7 linked regions of the Homo sapiens genome follow. The protein of the gene in region 3 purifies or fractionates together with the protein of the main gene of each other region. This does not show direct contact. Each region holds a gene or a part of one and is shown on either strand. Other genes may lie near its edges.

Region 1 (2,760 bases), on a different chromosome or scaffold from region 3:
TGTGGGAGCAGAAGGGGAGTTCTGGCTGGCTCCACTGGGGGCTTCCTCACCCAGACGGGCTAGGGGGAGAAGGTCCAGGAGTGGATGGCAGCCCTCGGTCCCTGGGCCTTGCAGTCCTTCCCAGCCTGGTGTTGGTCCCGCTGCACACCACTCCTAAGGCCGTAGAGAAGGAGCTGAACGCCCTCTACGATGTGTTTCTGGAGGTCTCCCAGCACTGGCAGAGCAAGGTAGGCCTGGGCAGTTTGTACAGGAGGGACAAGGATAGGGTGGCCCAGCGGCCAGCCTGATGGCTGCTGTGTCTCTAGGACGTGATCCTGCTTGGGGACTTCAATGCTGACTGCGCTTCACTGACCAAAAAGCGCCTGGACAAGCTGGAGCTGCGGACTGAGCCAGGCTTCCACTGGGTGATTGCCGATGGGGAGGACACCACAGTGCGGGCCAGCACCCACTGCACCTATGACCGCGTCGTGCTGCACGGGGAGCGCTGCCGGAGTCTGCTGCACACTGCGGCTGCCTTTGACTTCCCCACGAGCTTCCAGCTCACCGAGGAGGAGGTGAAGGGATGGGGCTGGCATGAGGAGGGAGGGCAGCAGCAGGGTCACAGGGAAGCCCCTCGGCCCCGGGCACTGACACTGCCCCACCACCCATTCCCAGGCCCTCAACATCAGTGACCACTACCCCGTGGAGGTGGAGCTGAAGCTGAGCCAGGCGCACAGCGTCCAGCCTCTCAGCCTCACTGTTCTGTTGCTGCTATCACTCCTGTCCCCTCAGCTGTGCCCTGCTGCCTGAGCGTCCCCCTACCCCCCCAGGGCCTGCTGCCTTTTGGGACTTAAACCCCAGCCTCCCCCGTCCATCCAGCCCTGGGGCTGGGGGGCTTCAACTATAGTTGCCCTGTGACTGTAGTCCACCCCTGCCTGCCTTGTTTGATTTGGCTCTTGTTCTTTGGTTGGGCTTGTGCCTAGATTAGGAGAGGAAGCCAGGGGCCCTGCACTCATGCCACCTGCCAGGTAGTGTAGTATCAGGAGTGGAGACAAAGTGGGCTCTGGGTTGGGGTAGGGGAAGGGAGGGTTCAGAAAGAGGAATGAAGATGTTGTATGACAAGAAGGAAAGTTACTGAGAACAAAAACCCAGATTGGTGAGATAGGACACTTGTGCAGCAGATATGCCAATGGGCCATGTTTATTGTGGATTGGTAAGAATCACCAGGAAACCATTAAGCCCCAATAGCTACAAGGAGGGTGGTTAATCTGCTATATCAAACTCCTTCCCTGAAACCAGCAAACACCGGGAAACATTTTGGCTCATTATAATCCGGTGAACAATGCAGTCAGGCCTGTTATAACCGCTGAGCAGCCACACTCGCACCTCCTGGGTGCTGTAGTCTGTGTTGGTACAGGCTTCTGCATGCCTGGTAAAGTCCAGCCAAGGCTGGTCAAGGCAACATCTCCACACAGAAAATCTGCACCAGTTATGTAAGCTAAAAAGCTGTGTGAACCCAGGTGTCCCGGAAAGGGGCTGCAGGACACAGCAAAATGCCAGCAGCATGCCGGACCCCTCCCTTCCATCCTCCTCTCCAAAGAAGAGAGGTCAGGAAAAACACTGGCTGGGACGCTAGAAGGGTCATGTGTTAACTATAATCACATTTATGGTTTGGAACCATCACCCCAAGGTAAAAAAAAAATAAAAGGTATTCCCAGGTATGTTTGGCAAAATAAAATAAAGGTAATTAAAAACCTAAGAAATGGCTGTAAACTGAGATTACAAAAAACCAGAGGCCTTTTGGGAGCCACAGGCTGGGGGCTGGGGCCAACATACCCCAGCTCTGGGACCAAAAGCCTTTGGAGTCCTGTCCCTGGATACAGATGCTCAGGCCACCCACCTAGCACTCCTCTCATTTTTGCTGCTCCCCCAAAAGCCAGCGCTGTTCTACAATAGTTCAGGTCAGACATCTAAGATCCCCAGGCCAAACCATGCCACACACGTGTCTGTTCCGAGGTCTTGTTACAAATGACCAAAGGTTAGCCTAGACCTTTGGTCAGGTGGTGAAGGCCCTGGGAATGCAGGTTCTAGAAGGGGTGGGGGCATGGGGCCCAGGAGGTTGCTAGAGATAGGAAATGGGGCAAATCGCAGGTGACCTCAGCAGTACCTGGATGATTCCCACCAAGGAGGAATGGCCAAACCAGATGGGTGAGAACAAGCCCAATGTGATGCACACCTACCCTTGCTAAATAAACGCTGCTGGTCAGCCTCTAGCCCACAAGCCCCTCTTGGTCCGCATGTGTTGTAATAAGCAACACAACTGTAGGCTGACCCCAGCCTGGGATTGCAAGGCTTTGCTGCAGCTGTGCTTCATGAAAAGCACTTCAGTGTTTTTCAACCTACTGCCTAGGACCTGGGGAGGTCCAAGTCAAGCTCCAGAGTAGACAACTGACATAAGGCCACCAGTCCCAGCCCTTTGCAGGGTTTGCTGCCTCATGAGCAGGGCTGAGTTGTCAACCTGTTTCTGAAGTGAAAGGGCAATGACCCAAAGGTTCCCAGAGGAAGTTCCTTCCCCGTCAAGAATGTAGATACAAAGACATAGGTGGACAGGAAGTAGAATTTATTGGTGAGTATTAAGAGGGGGGCAGCACATTGGAAGCCCTCATGAGTGCAGGGCCCGCCACTTGTCCAGAGGGCCACGACTGGGGATGTACTTGACCCCACAGCCATCTGGGATGAGCCGCTTTTCAGCCACCATGTCTTCAAATTCATCAGCATTGA
Region 2 (3,174 bases), about 190 Mb from region 3:
TGCTTAGTAGTGCCTGTCATCTGAAATACATGTTGAATTAATTAAATTGGCTCAACTTCAGGTGCCGATAAGAAGGGACGCTTCCTTCCGATTACTACCAGCTATGACTATGATGCACCTATATCTGAAGCAGGGGACCCCACACCTAAGCTTTTTGCTCTTCGAGATGTCATCAGCAAGGTACCCTACCATTTCATTAAGCTCCAAAGGCTTTTATTAATTTGGAGGAAGGGAGTGCCCACATTGTAAAGGTATCCCATAAATTGGTGGTTATTGTCTGGGCCACAGAGCCTTCTGAGCATCCCACTGAGGCATTTCCCATTCAACCAAATGGGACTATGTGTGAAGACACACAGGTGTGCAAAATTATTGAGCCTCCATGATCCCTGAAGCCCTTCCCTGGGCCCCAGGTTAGGAACTCTGCCCTAGAGTCTTGGAATAGGTATTGTTTTCTGTGGTTTTCCTATGGATCCTGAGAGAATCTGGGCTCAGTTCCAGGAAGTTCCTTTGGGACCTTTACCTCCCCCGAGCCCCAAGATGATGCTTGGACCTGTGACTCTGCACCTGGTAAGTTCCTCCACATCTTTTCTCTTATACCACACCTTTTTTTTCTAAATAGCCTATTCTTTCTTGTCCTCTATCCAGAAACTTCCCTGATATTCTAATTCTTCTCCCTTATTCTAATAGGTTGGGCATTTACTGGCTTTCCTAGACTTGCTTTGCCCCCGTGGGCCCATTCATTCAATCTTGCCAATGACCTTTGAGGCTGTCAAGCAGGTAAGGCATAAACCCACATCTGGTGGAGATGACAACCTCCCTTAACAGCTATACGCAAAAGTTCCTTGGCTATAGTCACAGTGTCCTCTTTTATTTCTGTTTGTCTGAAGTACTCATTCTTCCATACCCAGGACCATGGCTTCATGTTGTACCGAACCTATATGACCCATACCATTTTTGAGCCAACACCATTCTGGGTGCCAAATAATGGAGTCCATGACCGTGCCTATGTGATGGTGGATGGGGTGAGAACCTAATTCCAGGCTGTGAGCCCCAAACTCCTCCCTTCCCCAGGAAGCGTTAGCCTTAAGTTCCCCATATTTACACTTTCCCACCTGCCTGTTCACGTTTGCAGAGGGTTCCAGGGATAAGCTGGGATGAGGAAGAGTTTGATTAAGGATAGAATTCTAGAATAGATGGGTGATAGATGGCTACATTCTCTCTGCCCTCCAAATAAGTATCCTAATGTGTGGTTTCCTATGCAGTGGCTAAGAGCTAGATGCTGAGCCTTGCTCCTATCCTATCTCCTATCCACAGGTGTTCCAGGGTGTTGTGGAGCGAAATATGAGAGACAAACTATTTTTGACGGGGAAACTGGGGTCCAAACTGGATATCTTGGTGGAGAACATGGGGAGGCTCAGCTTTGGGTCTAACAGCAGTGACTTCAAGGTGAGCTAGCTTTGCCTAGTTATATCCCAGGGCTTGATTAAGGATAACTTAGCTTCAAAGCTTAGTGAATGATGACTTTTCATTTTCCTTCCCTATAGGGCCTGTTGAAGCCACCAATTCTGGGGCAAACAATCCTTACCCAGTGGATGATGTTCCCTCTGAAAATTGATAACCTTGTGAAGTGGTGGTTTCCCCTCCAGTTGCCAAAATGGCCATATCCTCAAGCTCCTTCTGGCCCCACATTCTACTCCAAAACATTTCCAATTTTAGGCTCAGTTGGGGACACATTTCTATATCTACCTGGATGGACCAAGGTATTGGTAATGGTGGTGGTTTGGGTAGCGGGGAGGTAAAAGAGAAAAATCACAGAAGGAGGGGAGCAGAAAGTATCCTCTGATTAGAAACCCAAAAGGGTATGATTCTACCCCTGGAGAGCTGACCCTTTCTTTTCCCCTCTTTCCTGCTCCCTATTCCCCAGGGCCAAGTCTGGATCAATGGGTTTAACTTGGGCCGGTACTGGACAAAGCAGGGGCCACAACAGACCCTCTACGTGCCAAGATTCCTGCTGTTTCCTAGGGGAGCCCTCAACAAAATTACATTGCTGGAACTAGAAGATGTACCTCTCCAGCCCCAAGTCCAATTTTTGGATAAGCCTATCCTCAATAGCACTAGTACTTTGCACAGGACACATATCAATTCCCTTTCAGCTGATACACTGAGTGCCTCTGAACCAATGGAGTTAAGTGGGCACTGAAAGGTAGGCCGGGCATGGTGGCTCATGCCTGTAATCCCAGCACTTTGGGAGGCTGAGACGGGTGGATTACCTGAGGTCAGGACTTCAAGACCAGCCTGGCCAACATGGTGAAACCCCGTCTCCACTAAAAATACAAAAATTAGCCGGGCGTGATGGTGGGCACCTCTAATCCCAGCTACTTGGGAGGCTGAGGGCAGGAGAATTGCTTGAATCCAGGAGGCAGAGGTTGCAGTGAGTGGAGGTTGTACCACTGCACTCCAGCCTGGCTGACAGTGAGACACTCCATCTCAAAAAAAAAAAAAAAAAAAAAAGTAACCCTTGGACCTGGGACATGGAGTGGGCAGGATCCCTTGGTGCTGGCCACGGTGACCCTAAGGAACTAAAGGCCACAGTGCCTCTGAATGTAAGTACAAGTACACATTCCTTGCCAAACTTTATTGTGATTAAAATTCCAGAGACAGTACCAGCTCCACATACCTCTAGCCCTGTCTTTGCCCTAGTTCCCGAGTGTCCTTCACCCCCATCTTCCAAATCATCTCTGGTTTCACGGGGAAGAAAAAACCTAGGGCTGCTGTGAATGTGCCCTCTCAGGTCCCTGAGTTGGCCCCAGGTAGAGCTGTAAGAGATCAGGAAGAGGGCCTCCCTGCCTGACGGCGATGATCCTGGAGGCAACGTGTGGAGCAGAAAGAGAAGTCGAGGTAGTGAAAGGGAGTCAGGCCTTGGAGGGATGCCCCACAACTCCAGCAGCGTCTGAACAAGAGGAAGAAAAATGGCTGGACAGGTACCCCAGAAACTTTCCAATCCACGCTCTCCCCGTCCCTCCTCCTGCCATTTCTGTTTTCACTGCAGCATCTGCCAGAACATCCCAAATTCCCTCAACCACCCTTCTGAATACTGTGCAGGTACTCATTTCTCTTGCCCCCAATGGTCCCTGCAACATTACAGTCCACCCACTCCCTCATCCCGCACCCCAT
Region 3 (3,500 bases):
CAAAGTGCTGGGATTACAGGCACGAACTCATATCCAGCTGAATTTCCTTTAATGAAGGAATGTTAGTGGCAAATTCTCTAAGTTATTTGCCTAAAATTGTTTTTACAAGGTAGGAGGATTGCTTGCACCCAAGACCAGCCTGGGCAACAAAGTTGAGACCCTGTCTCTACCAAAAAAAAAAAGCTGGGCATGGTGGCACATTCATGTCGTCCCAGCTACTTGTGAGGCAGGAGTGGGAGAATTGCTATGATCATGCCAGGAGTTCCAGCCTGGGCAACAGAGTGAGACCCTGTCTCTAAATAAATAAATAAATAAATTTGCTTCACCTCATTCTGCAAGATAATTTTGCTGAGAATAGAATTCTAGAATATCAATTTTCTCCCCTCTCTGAACACATTAAAATACTATATTACTGTATTTGGGCATCATTGATGTCAAGAAATCAGCTATCAGTCTAATTACTTTTCCTATGAGATGATTTGTCTTTTCTTTCTGACTGCTTTTACAATTTTTTTTTTCTTGAGTGTTCTATTTTAGAAAAATAGGTCTAGGTGAGAATTTCTGTTTATTTAATCTGCATTGAATTGTTGGGCTTCCTGGATTGGCATATTCCAGTGTTTTGCAACCTACTGGAAAAATGTCAGCTATTATTTCTTCAAATACTGCTTTTTTCCAGTTGTATCTCTTATCTTCTCCATCCACCTTGCCACTTAACCTCTGTTTTATATTTTCTATGTCTTTGACTCAATGAACTGCACTCTGGATAATTTATTCAGATCTATTTTCCAGTTCATTAACTCTCATATCAGTTGTGTCTAATCAATTTAACTCACCCGTTGCATTTTTATTTTTATTTTTTATTTTATTTATTTTTTTAAGACAGTCTCACTCTGTCGCTCAGGCTGGAGCGCAGTGGGGTGATCTTGGCTCACTGCAACCTCCGCCTCCTGGGTTCAAGCGATTCTCCTGCCTCAGCCTCCCGAGTAGCTGGGATTACAGGCGTGTGCCACCAAGCCCAGCTAACTTGTGTATTTTTAGTAGAGACGGGGTTTCACCATGTTGGCCAGGCTGGTCACCCATTGCATTTTTAAAATCAATCTTTTATTTCTAAAAGTTATGTTTGTTTCCTCTTCAAATCTACTTGGTCATTTTTATGCTCTTATTTCTTTCTTTCTTTCTTTTTTTTTTTTTTTTTGAGACAGAGTCTCGCTCTGTGGCCCAGGCTGGAGTGCAGTGGCATGATCTCAGCTCACTGCAACCTCTGCCTCCCAGGTTCAAGTGATTCTTCTGCCTCAGCCTCCCGAGTAGCTGGGATTACAGGTGCCCACCACCACGCCTGGCTAATTTTTTGTATTTTTAGTAGAGACGGGGTTTCACCATGTTGGCCAGGATGGTCTCAATCACCTGACCTCGTGATCCACCAGCCTCAGCCTCCTAAAGTGCGGGGACTACAGGCATGAGCCACCACACCCGGCCTCTTTTTTTTTTTTTTAAAACATACTGTTGCTGGCCGGAAAACTCTTATTTCTTCCTCATAGTTTCAAGCTTCCCTTTAATTTCTTAAAACATGTGAACTGGCCGGGTGCGGTGACTCATGCCTGTAATCCCAGCACTTTGGGAGGCCAAGGTGGGCAGATCATGAGGTCAGGAGTTTGAGACCAGCCTGATCAACATGGTGAAACCCCATCTCTACTAAAAATACAAAAATTAGCAGGGCGTGGTGGCACATGCCTGTAATCCCAGCTACTTAGGAGGGTGAGGCAGGGGAATTGCTGGAACTCGGGAGGCAGAGATTGCAGTGAGCTGAGATTGCACCACGGCACTCCAGCCTGGGCAACAGAGCGAGACCCTCTCTCAAACAAAACAAAACAAAAAAAATGTGAACTGTATCTGCTGTATATTCTGTGTGTAACAATTCCAACACAGCTTTTCCAAGTCTACTTTTCCCTGCTATTGTTTTGCTGGCTCTTACTCAGTGTCTTATTTCTTTGTATGTTTATAACGTTTTGGCTATGAGTTCATATTCCTGGAAACTTTACCTATGGAAATTCTTTGAGGCCTGGATTAGAGTTGCTCCAGAGATGTGTGTTTTCCTCTGCCAGTCATCTGGGGGTGCCATCAACCAGGTTGCACTTCAAAATACATTACCTACTTTAGATGTTCTGACCATACAGGTAGCATTAATAATTCAGGCTTCAAACCCACATTAGAGGGCAGGCGCAGTGGTTCATGCCTGTAATCCCAGCAGTTTGGGAGGCTGAGGCGGGAGGATCACCTGAGATCAGGAGTTCGAGACCAGCTTGGCCAACACAGCGAAACTCTGTCTCTAGTAAAAATACAAAAAATTAGCTGGGCATGGTGGCACATGCCTGTAGTCCCAGATACTCAGGAGGCTGAGGCAGGAGAATCGCTTGAGCCCGGGAGGTGGAGGTTGCAGTGAGCTGATATCATGCCACAGCAACTCCAGCCTGGGCGACAGAGTGAGAGAGACTCCATCCCAGAAAAAACAAAAACAAAAAATCCACATTAGATCAGGCTTGTTATAGAGTCTCAGGGAGAGTTTTTTTTCTCCCTTCTACACAGCACCAAAATCAAGAAAGGCAAAATTCTTTGCTGCCCTTCTTCATGACAAATTTACTTTTTGTTCATGTTCAGAGTGTAGCTGTTTGGAATCCCAGCTTTACGTAGGGAATCTCCTGTTAGTCTCTTCATATCAGGTGGGCCCAGGTATCATCTCTGGTCTCCTTTACAGCACAAGCACACTGACAGGCAGCTCAAGTTCACCTGGGTTTGGTTTGGCAGATACTCCTAAGGCAAAAGCTAATGTCAAGCTCACTTTCCCCCAGATTACTGTTTTCACTGCACATTTGTACTGTTGAGGATTTCTTGCCAACCCAGTGCTTTTGAAAAGATACTTTCTATTTTTATCCAGCTTTGTGGTTACTTTCATTGGGACATTTACTATTACACTCCCAGAAGTGGAAGTCTGAATGTTTTTCTAGTCCATCCTTTTTCTGGGCTGTGACCCTTTGACGGTTTCATGTTGATACAGAGATCTCAGTTCCAATGGCCTACCTTGAACGGGCCCAGGACCTTGTCTTCTCTTCCAGGTGCAACGACTAAAACCCTAGGATTTATGTTGCCAGCTGATGTTGGTGAATACCTTTAGGGCAGCTGTGGCTTCAGCATCTATTTTTGGCTACTGGGGCTTATAGACACCAACAAATTATGTATACTCACTTTATCTGTTGGGCCAGTTGTATGCATAGAAAAATGAAGACGGGCCAAGTGCAGTGCCTCACGCCTGTAATCCCAGCACTTTGGGAGGCCCAGGCGGGCAGATCACCTGAGGTCAGGTGTTCAAGACCAGCCTGACCAACATGGTGAAACCCCGTCTCTACTAAAAATACAAAAATTAGCCAGGTGTGGCGGCAGTTGCCTGTAATCCCAGCTACTCGGGAGGCTGAGGCAGGAGAATCACTTGAACCAGGGAGGTGGAG
Region 4 (3,500 bases), on a different chromosome or scaffold from region 3:
GAGAGAACTGGATCTCGTATGTCCACAGGCACCTGGGGAGGTCAGGCCAAGAACAAGGCTGGGGTCAAGACAGTCCTCAAAGGTGGGAGCAGGCAGGGCACGGCCGCGTGGACCCACAGCCTCATTCCCTCAAGCCCCTCGGCGGCACCTCCCCAGCCCCTGGGCACTCTTCCTGCCCAGGCAGGAGAGGGCTGGAGCCCGAATGTCCATCTCATGTCCCCTAGGAGAACCCACACCCCACTGGCAGGGCCTGGCGCGTGGCCCACAGTGTGTGGGGTGAAGGGCAGGGACGCAGGGCGGCGAGGGAGGGAGCCGATGGGCCACGGCAAGTGGCCCGAGTGACCGCATGGGTGAAGGGGTCGGGACCCAGGGACCTGCCTAGGACCAGGCAGAGGGAGGGGCGGCCCCACTCACGCACTTGGAGCCCACGTGTTCATCCGACCAGACCAGAACCAGCTGCCCTTGGGTCAGGGGCAGGGCGCGGAGCCGCGTGACCTGGGGGAGGGAAGGGCTGTGATGGCGTCGGGGAAGGGGAGTCCGGGCCGCGGCGCGGGTTAGGGGACTGCCACTTGCCTGCCCGGGCGGCTTCTCGGGGCGCGCACACACGTGCACCAGCAAAAGCGACGGCAGCCGCAGCGCGGGGCGCAGGGTCAGGCGGCCGCCGGCGGGTAAGGGGCGGGGCGCCGCGGCCACCGGGTCCTGGGCGCAGTGGCCGGTCCTCAGGGTTCTCCAGGGGAGCTGGGGACGCTCGGCCCGACCTCAGGGCGAACGCCCCCGGCCCACCGCTCCACCTCCCACCCACACCGCCTCGGAGCCCCCGCCCCGGACCCCACCCCCCCGGGACCCCGGCCCGGCCCGGCCCCTCGCCCCTCCGCGGCCCACCTACCTCAGCCGCGCGCATGCGCCGGAACTGCTCTGCCGTGGGGAAGACGGGCCGGCCCAGGCGCCGCCACTCGCCGTCGGGGCTGCAGAGCCCGTTGTCCAGGTAGCGCGTGACGTAGACCAGGCCTGCGGGGCCTGACACTCAGGCCTCGGCTCCCCGGGCCGCCCCCTCCAGAGCCCCAGCGGGGCCAGAGACCTCCCTGGAACCCCGGCTTACCCGGGCCGGGGGGCACCCCGCGCAGCCGCAGGGTCACCGCGACGCTGCGGTTGGGGTGGGCGCGGGTGTCGTCGCTCGCGTAGATCAGCACCGCGGCGCGCCAGGCGTCGGCCGGGCCCTGGGGGCGGTGGGCGCTGGCCAGGACGCCCACCGTGTGGTTGCTGTCCAGGACGGTCCCGGCCTGCGACACTTCGGCCCAGAGCTGCTCCTCATCTGCGGGGCGGGGGGGGGCCGTCGCCGCGTGGGGTCGTTGCCCAGCCGCCCCCCGACCCAGGGCCGGGCCTCCCACCACTCGCTCCCCCTCCCCTTGGTGAAGGAGTCCCCAGGCCCCGCCACGCGGAGGCCGACCCCGGGAAGCGCGCGGCTGGAGGAAGTGCGCTCCCCGCAGCGGGGCCTTCGCAGGAGCCGCTCCCCAGCCTGGAGGGCCCTGGCCGGCCCACCCCAGCGGCCCCGGCTCACCCAGCAGCGCCAGCAGCCCCATGGCCGTGAGCACCGGCTTGCGCAACAGCTGCACGTGCGGCGGGCGGGTGTTGTTGACCTGGAAGCGCGCGGTGAGCGTGCGCTGCGCGAAGGGGTGCGGGTGGTAGCTCAGGAAGGCATTGTCGTTGCTCAGGAGCGCGTAGGGGAAGGCGGAGGTGGTGTTGGCCAGTAGCAGGTTCTGATGCTGCGCGATGACCTGCGGGTGTCCAGGGCAGCTGGGACCGGGTGGCGCGGCCACCGCTCGCCTGTCCCGTCTCGGGAGGAAGGTGGCCGGGGGGCGCGCAGGGCGTTGGGCCGGCCCACCTTCACCACCATGGCCGCGTAGGTCACGTCCGCCCTCCACGGCTGTGGCAGGGACCAGCCCACCAGCGGGTCCGCCTCGTCGTTGTAAATGGGGGTGTCCGCGAACTTGGGGAAGAGCTGCCGGATCTGCTGCGCGACGACCTTCTCCTGCTCCAGGATGGAGATGGAGCTGCGCGCACCCTGCGGGCGGGGCCGCCTCAGCACCACCAGGGTCAGCGCGGCCCGGGGCACAGCGGCTGAGGGCGCAGAACACCGGGGCGGACGGAGGGGCAGGGCGCACCTTCCTGTGGAGGGAGATGTAGTCCAGCCGCACGCCCGCCTCCCCAGTGAAGAAGTTGGTACCGTCGTGGCAGTGGCGCAGGAGGCCCCAGCTCAGCGGGGATCGCGGTGGGGTGTGGAAGGAGTCGCCGGGGCCTCCCAGCCGCAGGGCGGGGCTGGCGGCGCGCAGACCCTCCGAGCAGGCATCGTAGTAGTTCAGGAAGCCTGGGCCGGGGGAGCACTGCGTCTACACCTGCCCTGGGGATGAGCGGCTTAGCCTCTGCTCCTGCCTTCCTCTGCCCCCTTTCAGCCGGGCAGGACCCCAGGAAGCGGTGCACACCTTGCATGGTCATGGAGACGTTGTCAAAGTCGTGGTGGTCTGGCTCATTCCACGTCTCGAAGTTCCACTTGGAAACATGCGCCAGTCCGTACCTACCTGCAGAGGAGCCTTGCTGTCCCCCCAGCACAGGTGAATCTCGCCTCAGTGACTCCCACGGAGGGAGGGTGCAAGGTGATGAAGGGCGTCTGACTCAAGATGAACCCCATCTCCATGCAGGCCAGCCTCCCGCCCCACATCAGGAAGCGCTGGCTCAAGGGGGTCCAAGACCTGGGCGGCGGCCTGGGTGATAGGGGTGCGGCCTGGGTGATAGGGGTGCAGCCTGCCCAGGAGTACCCCCCACCCCAGGGGCCCAGGGCCTTCGCCCACCCACCAAGCCCAGGAGTACCCCCCAGCCTGGGGCCCCAGGGCCTGCGCCGACCACCAACCTATCCCTTGTCACCCCCATCCCCCCACAAGGGCCTGCGCCTGCCCACCAATGTATCTCCTGACCAGGCAGCAGCCTGCGTGATAGGGGTGCAACCTGCCCAGGAGTACCCCCGCCCCGGCCAGGGCCCCAGGGCCTGCGCTCGCCCACCGATGTATCTCCTGGCCAGGCTGGAGACCAAGTCCTTCCACTCAAACACCTGCTGCTTGTCCTCAAAGTCAGTGAAGTGGCCCGAGGCGCTGCCCATCAGCTCAAACCCTGGAACACAGGAGGGCTGCCCCACCGCCCACCACACACCACACCCATGCTCTGCCAGGCCTGTGCTCCGGCACCAAGGCCAGCCCTGAATGGACATCCAAGGACTCAGAGGGGCTGGGTGAGGGAGAGGGTGGGCAGGGCAAGGGGGTGCAGGCGGGCTGGGAGGGCAGAGCCCACAGCTCACCTGGGAGGAGCTGGTTCTCCCTGAGAAGGTCCAGGTACCCGTCCAGGTGGGTGAAGTTGTAGCTCAGGCCCCGTCCAGTGGACCCCCTGCAGAAGGACGGTCAGCGTCAGGAAGCAGGGTGCCCACACAGCTCCATGCTCCAGGCTGGAACCGT
Region 5 (3,500 bases), on a different chromosome or scaffold from region 3:
TATTGCCACCCTACATCAGCAGGGCCTCTTTCCACATACCAGTTTGCAACCACTTCTAAATAATTAGCTTTGTGATCTTACATTGGGGGGTTGAAGACACTCATGGAGTGTGGGGTTAAAAGAGCCTTTATTCCTCAAAGTCATACTGAGGCCCCAGTCTGATGCACATTCCATTCCTAGATGGTGTGATGGTGGGCCTGTGTCTGGCTTCAGAGTTTCCAGCTCACTAGAGTTGCGGGGGCGCAAGGGTGGAGTGTCCATTCCCTGCAAAGAATCCTACAGTTCCTCCAACCCCTTGGCGCAGGCAGATTTCTGGAAGTCGTGAGCAGGTCCTTTAATCCTTGTTGGAAGATGTTGATGAAAATCAAGGTTGAGGGTTGTAAACTGGGGCTTAAACATAAAGGTGATCCAGTATCTGAGCCCAGATGTGGGCCTGGTAGGAAAGCTCTGTTGTTTGGGCCAAGTAGGGAAGGGTCTTGAGGAACGAGTGGGTTTGTTCTCATCACAGGGTCTAGTCTTACTGGGTCCTGGGCAGAGTATTAGTACATGCCCCTATTTCAAAGGAAGGTGGACCAACATCAGCATCCTACATGTGCCACAGATGTTCATTCATTCAACAGATACTTCTTTTTTTTCCCAAATGGATATTTCCTTGAGAATCTTTTATGAGCCAGGCCTCATGCTAAGGCATTGGGGATAACCATAAATAAGACAGACACCATCTCTTTCTCTCATGGCCTAGTGGGACAGCCACTGATTAATTATTTAATTCAGGTAGTAAGTGCTGGAAAGAGAAAGTGTTAATATAATGTGGTAAGAGAATGTATAACAGGGATCCCTAACCTAATTCAAGGAGTCAGGAAAGCCTTCTCTGAGAACCTCTGGGTCTTTCTTAGAATAATGTTTTTAAATGTATAAAGTAAAATGCATAGAATTACAAAGAAAGCAGTTTTATTGAAATACAGTTATCAAAATATAACAACAAGGTTGTGATAAAATAATATTTATGTTTATTAATGCATCATATAAAAAGATCAAAGGTACAAGCTTGATAACTTCTATAATTTTAAGTTGTGATGAGCATAAATAGTGTTTCAGGATATCTTGTAATGTGATAAGAAAATATGATTTCTGTTGGTGGCAAAGTCACAGACACTGCTACCCTAATTACTACTGTAATTTGTTATCTACATTCATAAATGTAGAAAGCATTTATACATTTATAAATACATTCATAATACAGGAAAGGCTAAATTTCAGTTAGAGGTTAGTGAAGATAAAGATGTCATTTTTCTCCATCCAAATTCGTAGACTACAGTGGAAAAAAATTATATAACACTTGGAAATAAAAGATGATTTTGTGACATTTTAGTATCATACTGGAGTATTGTATAAGAAACCACCTAAGGACCAGCTGTGTTCTAGGGGATGTAACTCTGTTTATTATTTTTTATGGGCCATACTTTGTAAAGTTAAGTAGGATGCAAATTATTTCTGTTTGGTAAAGAAGAGAAGCACAAAGATTATTGCCCTGAAGGACATTAACCTGTTGGTATCTAATGTAGCAATCTTATATCAGGATTATATCCTCTTTTTTAGGGTCTCTTATTAGCGAGTTAAGTAAAACTTTGAAATATGCTCAATACCTATTTGTATGAGAATTAGGCTTTTAACATTTTAGAACTGTACTTGACTCCAGTTCAACTGCTGAGTGAGCAGGACGTAAAGATGTGTTGCTTAGAAGAGAGGTCTGATCTGGAGATGTTAATTTAGGGGTGCTGTTCAGGAGAGTGGGTGAAGTTGGCTGGGGGACCATATAGGGTAGGAAGAGAGGGTAGACTGAGTGAGCTGTGGAACTTCAACATTGAAAGAATGGGGAGAGGAGGGTTTACAAAGAAGAAAGGAATGATTGCTAGAGAGGTAGGAGGGAAACCAAGTGTCGCATCCAGTTCAAGAGGCCAAACAAGATGAGAACTGGAAGTGCCTGTAGGGTTTATCTATAGGAGGTCATTGTTGAGCCTTCACCAAGAGCCTTTTTTGTGGTGGTTGTGGGGAGGGCAGATTTCAGAGGGATGAGCAATGGAAGGAGGGAGGAGAATGGGAGGAGCAGGGGAGATGGAAAATTCTGGCTGTGAGTGGAGAGGGGAGTGATATGGGGTCCAGAGAGAGAGTTTTTAAAAGATGGGTCAGTGATGGAGTTTCTTCACCTTAAGGAGATATGTGTAAAATGGATTCCTGGGCTCCCAGCCCCTGGAGATGTTTTTCTTCAAGAATAAAGCCCAGGAATCTGTATTCCCAGAATACCGAGCTCTGCGGTAAAGCTACAAAACTAGACACATTTCCAAGTTAATCTTATATGGCTGGTGGTATTTTGCCAGCCGAGGTGGGTGCTCTCAATTGAGTGTGTAGCACAAGTTCTGCTCACATTGGAGCTGTGTCACCATTGTCTGCTTGGTGTCACTTGGCCTGAGCATGTGCTTTTCTCTGAAGGGATTTGGGGGTTTGTGGACATGCTGGTAGCAGAGGGAAGATGGATCAGGTTGTCATTGTAGCTCTTTTCAGCAGGTCACGCTCAATAGCTGGATTGGAAGGGACAGCAGACTTGCCAGCCTCTCGGGTATTATTCTGGGTGGAGCAACGGGGAGTGGATGATGCTCCAGGGATGTCTGTGGGAACTATTCACATTGACAGCCCAAGAGAAAAGCATCAGATCTGTCCTGGCGGGGACCTGGCTCTACTGTTTTAGGCTTAATCCGAGGCAAATCCCTTCTCTGAGCCTCAGTTTTCACATCTCTAAAGTGGGGATAGTACCACCTCTGCCTATAAACACTCATTGTTTATGACAATTTTTCAACTCCTGCAAGAACAGTTATACATTTTACAGTGTAACCCAGTACACACTGGGCTCACTGAATGCATAGTGTTGCTACCTGTGCTACTCACTGATGTTTTCTAGTCAATGTAATTTTTTAAAAATGCTACTGTAACTCACTGATTTTATGACTAGACTCCTGGGTTGAGACCTGAAGGGTGGAAACAGTGGCTTAGACTCTCAGCTTCAGAGGATGAAATGAGATCATGTGTGTAAAAGCATGGATGTACACCGTGGGTCATGAACACTGAGTTGTTATTTTCTTATCAGTTAACGGAGCTTGGAGGCAGAGTTGATTTCCGGAGTGGGAATTCACCTGCTCTTCCTCCCTCCCTGCTGCCTAATTCAATGTTCCCTCTACCAGTTCTTCCTCGTTAACAGGCCTGGCACACCAAGCTGGCGGTGATCCAGACCCCTCTTGGCTCAAGAAGAGGTTTTCCAAAACATTAAAAGCTTTAGGGACTTAAGTCCTGGCTAAATGCACTGCAGTTGCAATTTCAGGATAAGAAAACCTGTTTTCATAAGCTCTCAGATAAGTTGCCCTGCCCCTGAATTGTCCATTGTTGACAGCAACATTTGTGCCATGGGGAATAAAAAGGGGAGACACTGTGCTGCGTAGCCCCAAATG
Region 6 (3,500 bases), on a different chromosome or scaffold from region 3:
CTGTAATCCCAGCACTTTGGGAGGCCAGGGTGAGTGGATCACTTGAGGTCAGGAGTTTGAGACCAGCCCGGCCAACATGGTGAAACCCCGTCTCTACTAAAAATGCAAAAAATTAGCCAGGTGTGGTGTTGCACACCTGTAGTCCCAGCTATTCAGGAGGCTGAGGCAGGCGAATTGCTTGAACCTGGGAGGCAGAGGTTCCAGTGAGCCAAGGTCATGCCACTGCACTCCAGCCTAGGCAACAGAACAAGACTGTCTCAAAGCAAAAAAACAGAAAAAGATTACAAGGTGGGGGCTATTTGAGCCAGTGTGGTCAGGGAAGGTGTCTCTAAGGAAGTAGTGTTTCAGGTGACATCTGAAGGAGGTGAGAGAGGGAGCCTTGTGGGTGTCTGGGGGAAGAGCATTGAAGGTGGGAGGAACAGAAGGTGCAAAGGCCCTGGGGTAAGAACAAGCTTGGTGAGTTTCAGAAGCAGTGTGGACGCTGGTGTGGCTGGAGAGGTCGCGGGGAGATGAGGCCGGGGAAGCCAGACCACTTAGGAACTTGTAAGCTGTGGGCAGAAGTTTGGATTTGACCCAGAGAGCAGGAGAACAGGAAAGCAGGGCCTGTCAGAGGCATTGTCCATTCATCCAGGATCTATCCAAGATGTTCTGGGTTCTGGCCTGGGAGTGACTACCAGAGAGCTTGACAGTTCTGAGCCCCACTATTTTCCTTGTGGAAAAGATGCCTTCCTGATCCCTGCGAAGGCCTCCCTAAGATCTAGCTACATCGTTGGCACTATCTGGGTTTGGGACCAACTCTTTCCTGGGGCTTTCAGAGGATGGGGAGAAGGAATAATTCAGTTTAGATCACGTGCCTCAGGGACTTCACACTTGCTGTTCCCTCTGCCTGTGACACTGTTCCCCCTGGTAGCTATTTATCTCTGATTTCTGCTTAAATGTCACCTCCTCCAAGAGGCTCACCCTGAACAGCTAAGTGAAATAGCCCCCTGCTGCCACTCTCTGAGTGCTTACTCCGTGTTCTTTTTCTTTCTCTCTCTTTCTTTCTTTTTTTTTTTTTTTTTGAGACTGAGTCTCACTCTGTTGCCTGGGCTGGAGTGCAGTGGCGCAATCTCGGCTCACTGCAAGCTTTGCCTCACCGGTTCAAGTGATTCTCGTGCCTCAGCCTCCCGAGTAGCTGGGACTACAGGCACGTGCCACCTGATGCCCAGCTAGTTTTTGTTGTATTTTTAGTAGAGACAGGGTTTCACCATGTTGGCCAGGCTGGTCTTGAACTCCTGACCTCAGGTGATCTGCCGCCCAAAGTGCTGGGATTATAGGCATGAGCCACCACGCCCGGCCATATTTTTCTTTATAGCCCTCGTTTCCACATTTCTATGATTCTTCTATTCATTCATTCTCTGTTTCCCCACTAGAGCGGCAGTTTATCAGGGTTCAGCTAGCTTTGTTGTTTCTCCAGTGTCTAGAGCAGAGCCTGACACACAGTAGGTGCTCAAGAAATATCTGCTGAATGGATGAATGGATGGATGGATGGACCCCCTCACACACACAGAGTGTCTTTCTTTCTCAAACCACAGGATTCTTTTATCAAGAGAGTGTCAGGGGAACACTCGCTCCTGGATGGAAGGCACCAAGAAAATCCATTCTTCAGGCCAGGTGTGATGGCTGATACCTATGATCCCAGCATTTTGGGAGACCAAAGCCAGAGGGTCTCTTGAGGCCAGGAATTTGAGACCAGCCTGGGCAATACAGCAAGATCCCATCTCTACAATAACTTTTTCTTTTTATTTCTTTTTTTTTTTTTATTTTTGAGATGGAGTCTTGTTCTGTCACCCATGCTGGAGTACAGTACAGTATTGTGATGATCTCAGCTCACTGCAACCTCTGCCTCCCGGGCTCAAGAGATTCTAGTGCCTCAGCCTCCCGAGTAGCTGGGACTACAGGGGCGTGCCACCACACCCAGCTAATTTTTGTATTTTTAGTAGAGATGGGGTTTCACCATTTTGGCCAGGCTGGTCTCGAACTCCTGACATCTTGATTTGTCTGCCTCGGCCTCCTAAACTGCTGGGATTACAGGCGTGAGCCACCGTGCCCGGCCTCTGCAGTAACTTTAAAAAAAATTGGCCAGGCTTGTAGTTCTACTCAGGAGGCTGAGGTGTGAAGATCACTTGAGCCCAGGAGTTTGAGGCTGCAGTGAGCTATCATTGCACTACTGCACTCCAGCTTGGGCGACAGACTGAGACCCTGTCTCCACAAAAAAGAAAGAAAGAAAACCCATCTTCTTTACCTGTGCCTGACATTCCACCGATAGGGCACTGTTGTTTAGGGGTAAGACGATGTTCTCCTGGGGCTCCTTTAGAGCATGTAAATGTCCCAGTGGAGGGAAGTAAAAGGAAATTTAAAGACTCCGAGTTAGTGTAGGAAAGAGCCCCTTGGGGCTGGATTTAAGATTATGGAGCTTGAGCGACATCTAGTGGTCGAGTGAGGTTTGTGCAGGGACTGTGTGCGTCTGTGTGACTGGTGGGTGAATGTGTGTGGTTGTGCACCTGTGCGTGGGCGCGTGCGTATGTGGGATGGGGGTGCCCAGGTCAGGGTAAAACAGGTGAGATACTCGCCGCGGGTGCAAACATTTTAAAAAGTTGATGATGATGATGATGATGATATTTGAAACAGAGTCTTGCTGTGTCGTCCACACTGGAGTGCAGTGGTGCGATTTCGGCTCACTGCAATCTCTGCCTCCCGGGTTCAAGCGATTCTCCTGCTCAGCCTCTCGAGTAGCTGGGATTATAGGCGCACAGCACCACAGCCGGCTAAATTTTTTTTTTTTTGTATTTTTAATAGAGACAGGGTTTCACCACGTTGCCCACTCTGGTCTCGAACTCCAGACCTCAGATGATCTGCCCGCCTTGGCCTCCCAAAGTGCTGGGATTACAGGCGTGAGCCACGGTGCCGGGCCTATTTCTAAGACGGGGTCTTGTTCTGTCACCCATGCTGGAGTGCAGTGGTGCAGTCATAGCTCACTGAAGCCTCCAACTCCTGGGCTCAAGTGATTCTTCTGCCTCAGCCTCCTGAGTAGCTAGGGTGACAGGTACATGGTACAGAGTTCAGCTATAGTACAAAATTTAAGGGTATGCCCCCCAAAAAAATAAAAACCAGTAACCAAGATAAATAATATTTTAATGGAACATTTTAAGAAAAATCTAAATTGATGCAAGAAAAATCTATAATGAATAAAAACAAATTTTTAAATAAATATGGGCTCCCCCTCTGCACTTGCATAACTTGCCTCACTCTAACTTTGGCCCCATAGGCATGTGTCTGTGGTGTCATGCGTGTATGTGTATGTTTGGTGACTGTGTGCATGTTCAGGGACCATGAGCACAGGGACATGCTTGTATCATCATCACACCAGTGACTGTATCCATGTAGGCCAACCATATGGTATGTGTGGATTTCTTTCTTTCTTTCTTTTTTTTTTTGAGATGGAGTTTCGCTCTTGTTGC
Region 7 (3,500 bases), on a different chromosome or scaffold from region 3:
TGCACAGTCCGTGCACAGTGTAGCAGGCAGGTCCAGGGCTGGCTGACAGAAAGGCTATGTTGTCAGCTGACCTATGTTTCCATTTCTCCCCTAAAACTTTATGCCGGAAATATGTTTGGTATCCTTGACATTGGTTAATTTGAACTCTAGAGCGTGTGAGATCTAGTGTGGGTGTGAAGTTAACGCTGACTCACATATGCATACATTTTTTCTTTTCTTTTTTTTAGAGAAAGCCAGTGAAGAAGAAGGATATTTTTGTTGCAGTAAAAACATGCAAGAAATTTCATGGTGACAGAAGTATGTTTTGGGTTATTCATTTTATTGAACGCTAAAATCCAGACTACCTTCTAAAGAAAAGTACCAATGAATTCTTGAGTGTAAATTCAGAAAAGGGATAATGACAATTCGGATGTTGAAGTGAAAGCAGTTATTTAATCAATACTCCTCATTGCACCATTTCAATCACCAAGATCAATTAGGAAAGAAAATTTTGTATTGAAACGTGAGTGGTCATAGCCGATACTGCTTATGGCAGTATTTTAAATTGGAAATGGAAAAGCTCAGTGTGGCAGTCTTGGAGACTGTGTGAAAAACAGTCCATTTTGTCAAACAATGTATTAGGTCTGTGCGCAGTCTCTAAACGGGATGAAGAATGTCAGGGGATTTCAAGGTAACAGCATGCCAACAAAGAAAAAAGACTTTTTCTTCTTTTTCAATTTATTTCAAATGCTTACCTTGGAACTTGTTAGTTAAGAGATGTATTTGCTCATGAGTAGATAATATTGGAGAAGAAGAAAAAGCCGCGGTACAAACAGTGAATCTCTTCTTAAGGAAATCCTGGCATGCAGATTAATGTTGTTTTTATTCAGGTTTTTGATGTCATTACAGAATTCTGCTAAGTTGTGACGATAATGTAAAAAAAAAAAGCCCATCCTAAATATAAATAGACATAATTTCTCTCTTTTTGCACCTTATTTCAAGCAACACTTTTCTGAAATTGAAAATTAGGCAGTCTTTTGCATTTTCTAATTTTAGTGCGTATTTTAATTTTTTTCCCCATGAAAAGACTGTCAATTTCACCAAGGATGTGGTATTTATGTAGGAGAGATTTCTAAACCAACTGTCATTTTCATGGGATTGGAACTACTGAAGAAGTTCATTTATATATTTTATGTGATAATATGATACATACAAATTATATTTTACAGGGGAAGATGTTTTCCAAATAAAATAATATTATAATTTGAGATTATAGTATTGTCTAAGACATCAACATCAATTAAAATCCAGCTATAATCAATTATATCTTAAAAATACATTAACTATAAACCTTCATATTTGCCTAAAATGGCCACACTAAATTCCAAATCCTATTAAATCAGTCTATATGAATACATTTGTTATGCAACAAGTCCTAAGATACTGTGAAGAATCAGTATAGCAGTTAAAATAAAATTTTTATTTATCATAAATTTAACCTAAATTTAATATCCTTTTACTTTTTTCATAATATGGAAGGGTTTTGTGGGATTATTTTGACAAATACCTTCTTTAAATAGGTGTTGGGGAAATGAACTATACCGCTTTTTGTTTTGTTTCTTTTACAGCAAGCAGGAACTGTTTGAATTGATTTAATTGATCTTGAAGCTACACTTGGAGTAGTGATTGTTTTCACAATATTAATGTTAAGGATGGTGTTGCTGGTACTTTTTCTTTGAAACACATTTTTCAGGTCACAGTGAAGCAGTAAAATTAGGGACACTCCCTGTTGTATTTTTTATATTCTACAGAAATGAAAAAAAAAATAGTTTGTTAATTTTGATTTAGTAATTTTGAATAATCTAGTTTACTGCTTTCTTATTTTGCATAAGTTTGAGATACTCTTTTTAGATATTCATGAAATCCTTTTCTGTTTGAATTTTGAGTCAAAAGTCTTTAAAAATTACAAAATCTTAAAAGCCTATTAGGAGCATTAGAAACAAACCTTCCAAAGCCAGATGCATTGATTTACTGCTGTTAATTTGAATCTGGGATCATTAAAGCATGAGGCCTAAAATGTATCATGAAGTTTTCATATTTGGGTTTCTGTGGTAAGCCGTTTTTCAACTTGGATATGTTTGTTTGAAAAGATAGTCTAAGGCAACAGGATTTCAGTGACTTTGAAGTCCATTTTGCATGACTTCATGTAGCCTGCCAAGCCACCACTGGGCTCTGCCCCTCATTTTAGAAGCCTAGTCCAGCCATCAGTTGGCCCAAAGAGTTATCCAGTAATACCAGTTACAAGGATAACATCACACTAACTGCTTCTAACTGCTAATATTTCTTACATTTTCTGGTGTGTTTTTCACATATGTTCTATTACCTAGTTTCATGTTGACACTTCCTCGTGATATGATAATTATTGTTATTCACTTGTTGTGGAAAAAGCTGAGTATGGAATGATACACAACTGGCTCAGTTTCTTGTATCCTATTGAGTAGCAGAGCCAAAGACTTGGGTTTTCTGGCTCCTAAGTCCCACATTTTTTTCTACCACAGCACAGCTATACTGTAATCTCCTTGGATGTATTACAAACTCCATACTTGATAAATAGTCTTTGCTATTCATGTTGATGTCCTGCTATGCTCAAGGTCAGTTTTGACTTGGCCAGAAGCTGTGAAAGTAGGCTTTCCATTTTTAGTAGCAATGGGGATGGCAAGGAATTGAAACCCACACAGGATCTAAAATACAAATCGAGCTGAGAATTTAGACTGCCACTCCTATCTAAGCATATCACTGCTATAGTCAAGCAGAATACATGGTCTGGGGTGTTGGATTTTTTTTTCATTTTCTTTTCCCTGTGCACTCTATTAGTGGGGGAAACCAGCCCCCAATATTCAACGTGAGTCCTTTTCTATTTTCCCTAAGTGTTGGCCAGTCTGAGAAATAAAGGGAAGGAGTACAAAAGAGAGAAATTTTAAAGCTGGGTGTCCGGGGGAGACATCACATGTTGGCAGGTTCTGTGATGCCCCCTGAGCCGTAAAACCAGCAAGTTTTTATTAGTGATTTTCAAAAGGGGAGGGAGTGTACGAATAGGGTGTGGGTCACAGAGATCACTTGCTTCACAAGGTAATAAAATAGCACAAGGCAAATGGAGGCAGGGCGAGATCACAGGACCAGGGCGAAATTAAAATTGCTAATGAAGTTTCAGGCACACATTGTCATTGATAATATCTTATCAGGGGACAGGGTTTGAGAGCAGACAACCAGTCTGACCAAAATTTATTACGCAGGAATTTCCTCATACTAATAAACCTGGGAGCGCTACGGGAGACTGGGGCTTATTTCATCCCTTATCAACGACCATAAAAGACAGACATTTCCAAAGCGGCCATTTCAGAGACCGTCCCTTGGGAACGCATTCTCTTTCTCAGGGATGTTCCTTGCTAAGAAAAAGAATTCAGCAATATTTCTCCTATTTGCTTTTGAGAGAAGTGAAATATGGCTCTGTTCTGCCCAGC

Evidence for each region.
Region 1: the proteins of CGREF1 (region 3) and DNASE1L1 purify together in Homo sapiens (co-immunoprecipitation; one large-scale study listed by IntAct). This does not show direct contact.
Region 2: the proteins of CGREF1 (region 3) and GLB1L purify together in Homo sapiens (affinity purification with mass spectrometry; one large-scale study listed by BioGRID and IntAct). This does not show direct contact.
Region 4: the proteins of CGREF1 (region 3) and IDUA purify together in Homo sapiens (affinity purification with mass spectrometry; one large-scale study listed by BioGRID and IntAct). This does not show direct contact.
Region 5: the proteins of CGREF1 (region 3) and PDIA5 purify together in Homo sapiens (affinity purification with mass spectrometry; one large-scale study listed by BioGRID and IntAct). This does not show direct contact.
Region 6: the proteins of CGREF1 (region 3) and OLFM2 purify together in Homo sapiens (affinity purification with mass spectrometry; one large-scale study listed by BioGRID and IntAct). This does not show direct contact.
Region 7: the proteins of CGREF1 (region 3) and B3GLCT purify together in Homo sapiens (co-immunoprecipitation; one large-scale study listed by IntAct). This does not show direct contact.

The regions. Positions count from the first base shown.
Region 1 is NC_000023.11:154,400,736-154,403,495, reverse strand, and holds the end of DNASE1L1 (deoxyribonuclease-1-like 1 precursor), read left to right. Parts: intron 1-114; coding exon 115-227; intron 228-305; coding exon 306-554; intron 555-654; coding exon 655-789; 3' UTR 790-2,260; downstream 2,261-2,760. Other genes in the region: RPL10 (large ribosomal subunit protein uL16), read right to left, coding at 2,473-2,760.
Region 2 is NC_000002.12:219,236,098-219,239,271, reverse strand, and holds the end of GLB1L (beta-galactosidase-1-like protein isoform 1 precursor), read left to right. Parts: intron 1-61; coding exon 62-180; intron 181-492; coding exon 493-567; intron 568-687; coding exon 688-777; intron 778-908; coding exon 909-1,022; intron 1,023-1,314; coding exon 1,315-1,446; intron 1,447-1,544; coding exon 1,545-1,760; intron 1,761-1,924; coding exon 1,925-2,200; 3' UTR 2,201-2,674; downstream 2,675-3,174. Other genes in the region: tRNA endonuclease ANKZF1, read right to left, coding at 2,827-2,950.
Region 3 is NC_000002.12:27,105,629-27,109,128, reverse strand, and holds part of CGREF1 (cell growth regulator with EF hand domain protein 1 isoform a precursor), read left to right. Parts: intron 1-3,500. UniProt on the Homo sapiens protein: Mediates cell-cell adhesion in a calcium-dependent manner. Able to inhibit growth in several cell lines.
Region 4 is NC_000004.12:1,000,544-1,004,043, reverse strand, and holds part of IDUA (alpha-L-iduronidase isoform a precursor), read right to left. Parts: intron 3,433-3,500; coding exon 3,347-3,432; intron 3,163-3,346; coding exon 3,055-3,162; intron 2,577-3,054; coding exon 2,481-2,576; intron 2,366-2,480; coding exon 2,163-2,365; intron 2,063-2,162; coding exon 1,883-2,062; intron 1,776-1,882; coding exon 1,559-1,775; intron 1,313-1,558; coding exon 1,100-1,312; intron 1,009-1,099; coding exon 887-1,008; coding exon of another isoform or gene 700-886; coding exon 574-699; intron 496-573; coding exon 419-495; exon of another isoform or gene 415-418; intron 33-414; coding exon 1-32.
Region 5 is NC_000003.12:123,073,525-123,077,024, forward strand, and holds part of PDIA5 (protein disulfide-isomerase A5 precursor), read left to right. Parts: intron 1-3,500.
Region 6 is NC_000019.10:9,930,016-9,933,515, reverse strand, and holds part of OLFM2 (noelin-2 isoform 2 precursor), read left to right. Parts: intron 1-3,500. UniProt on the Homo sapiens protein: Involved in transforming growth factor beta (TGF-beta)-induced smooth muscle differentiation.
Region 7 is NC_000013.11:31,276,475-31,279,974, forward strand, and holds part of B3GLCT (beta-1,3-glucosyltransferase precursor), read left to right. Parts: intron 1-227; coding exon 228-297; intron 298-3,500. UniProt on the Homo sapiens protein: O-glucosyltransferase that transfers glucose toward fucose with a beta-1,3 linkage. Specifically glucosylates O-linked fucosylglycan on TSP type-1 domains of proteins, thereby contributing to elongation of O-fucosylglycan.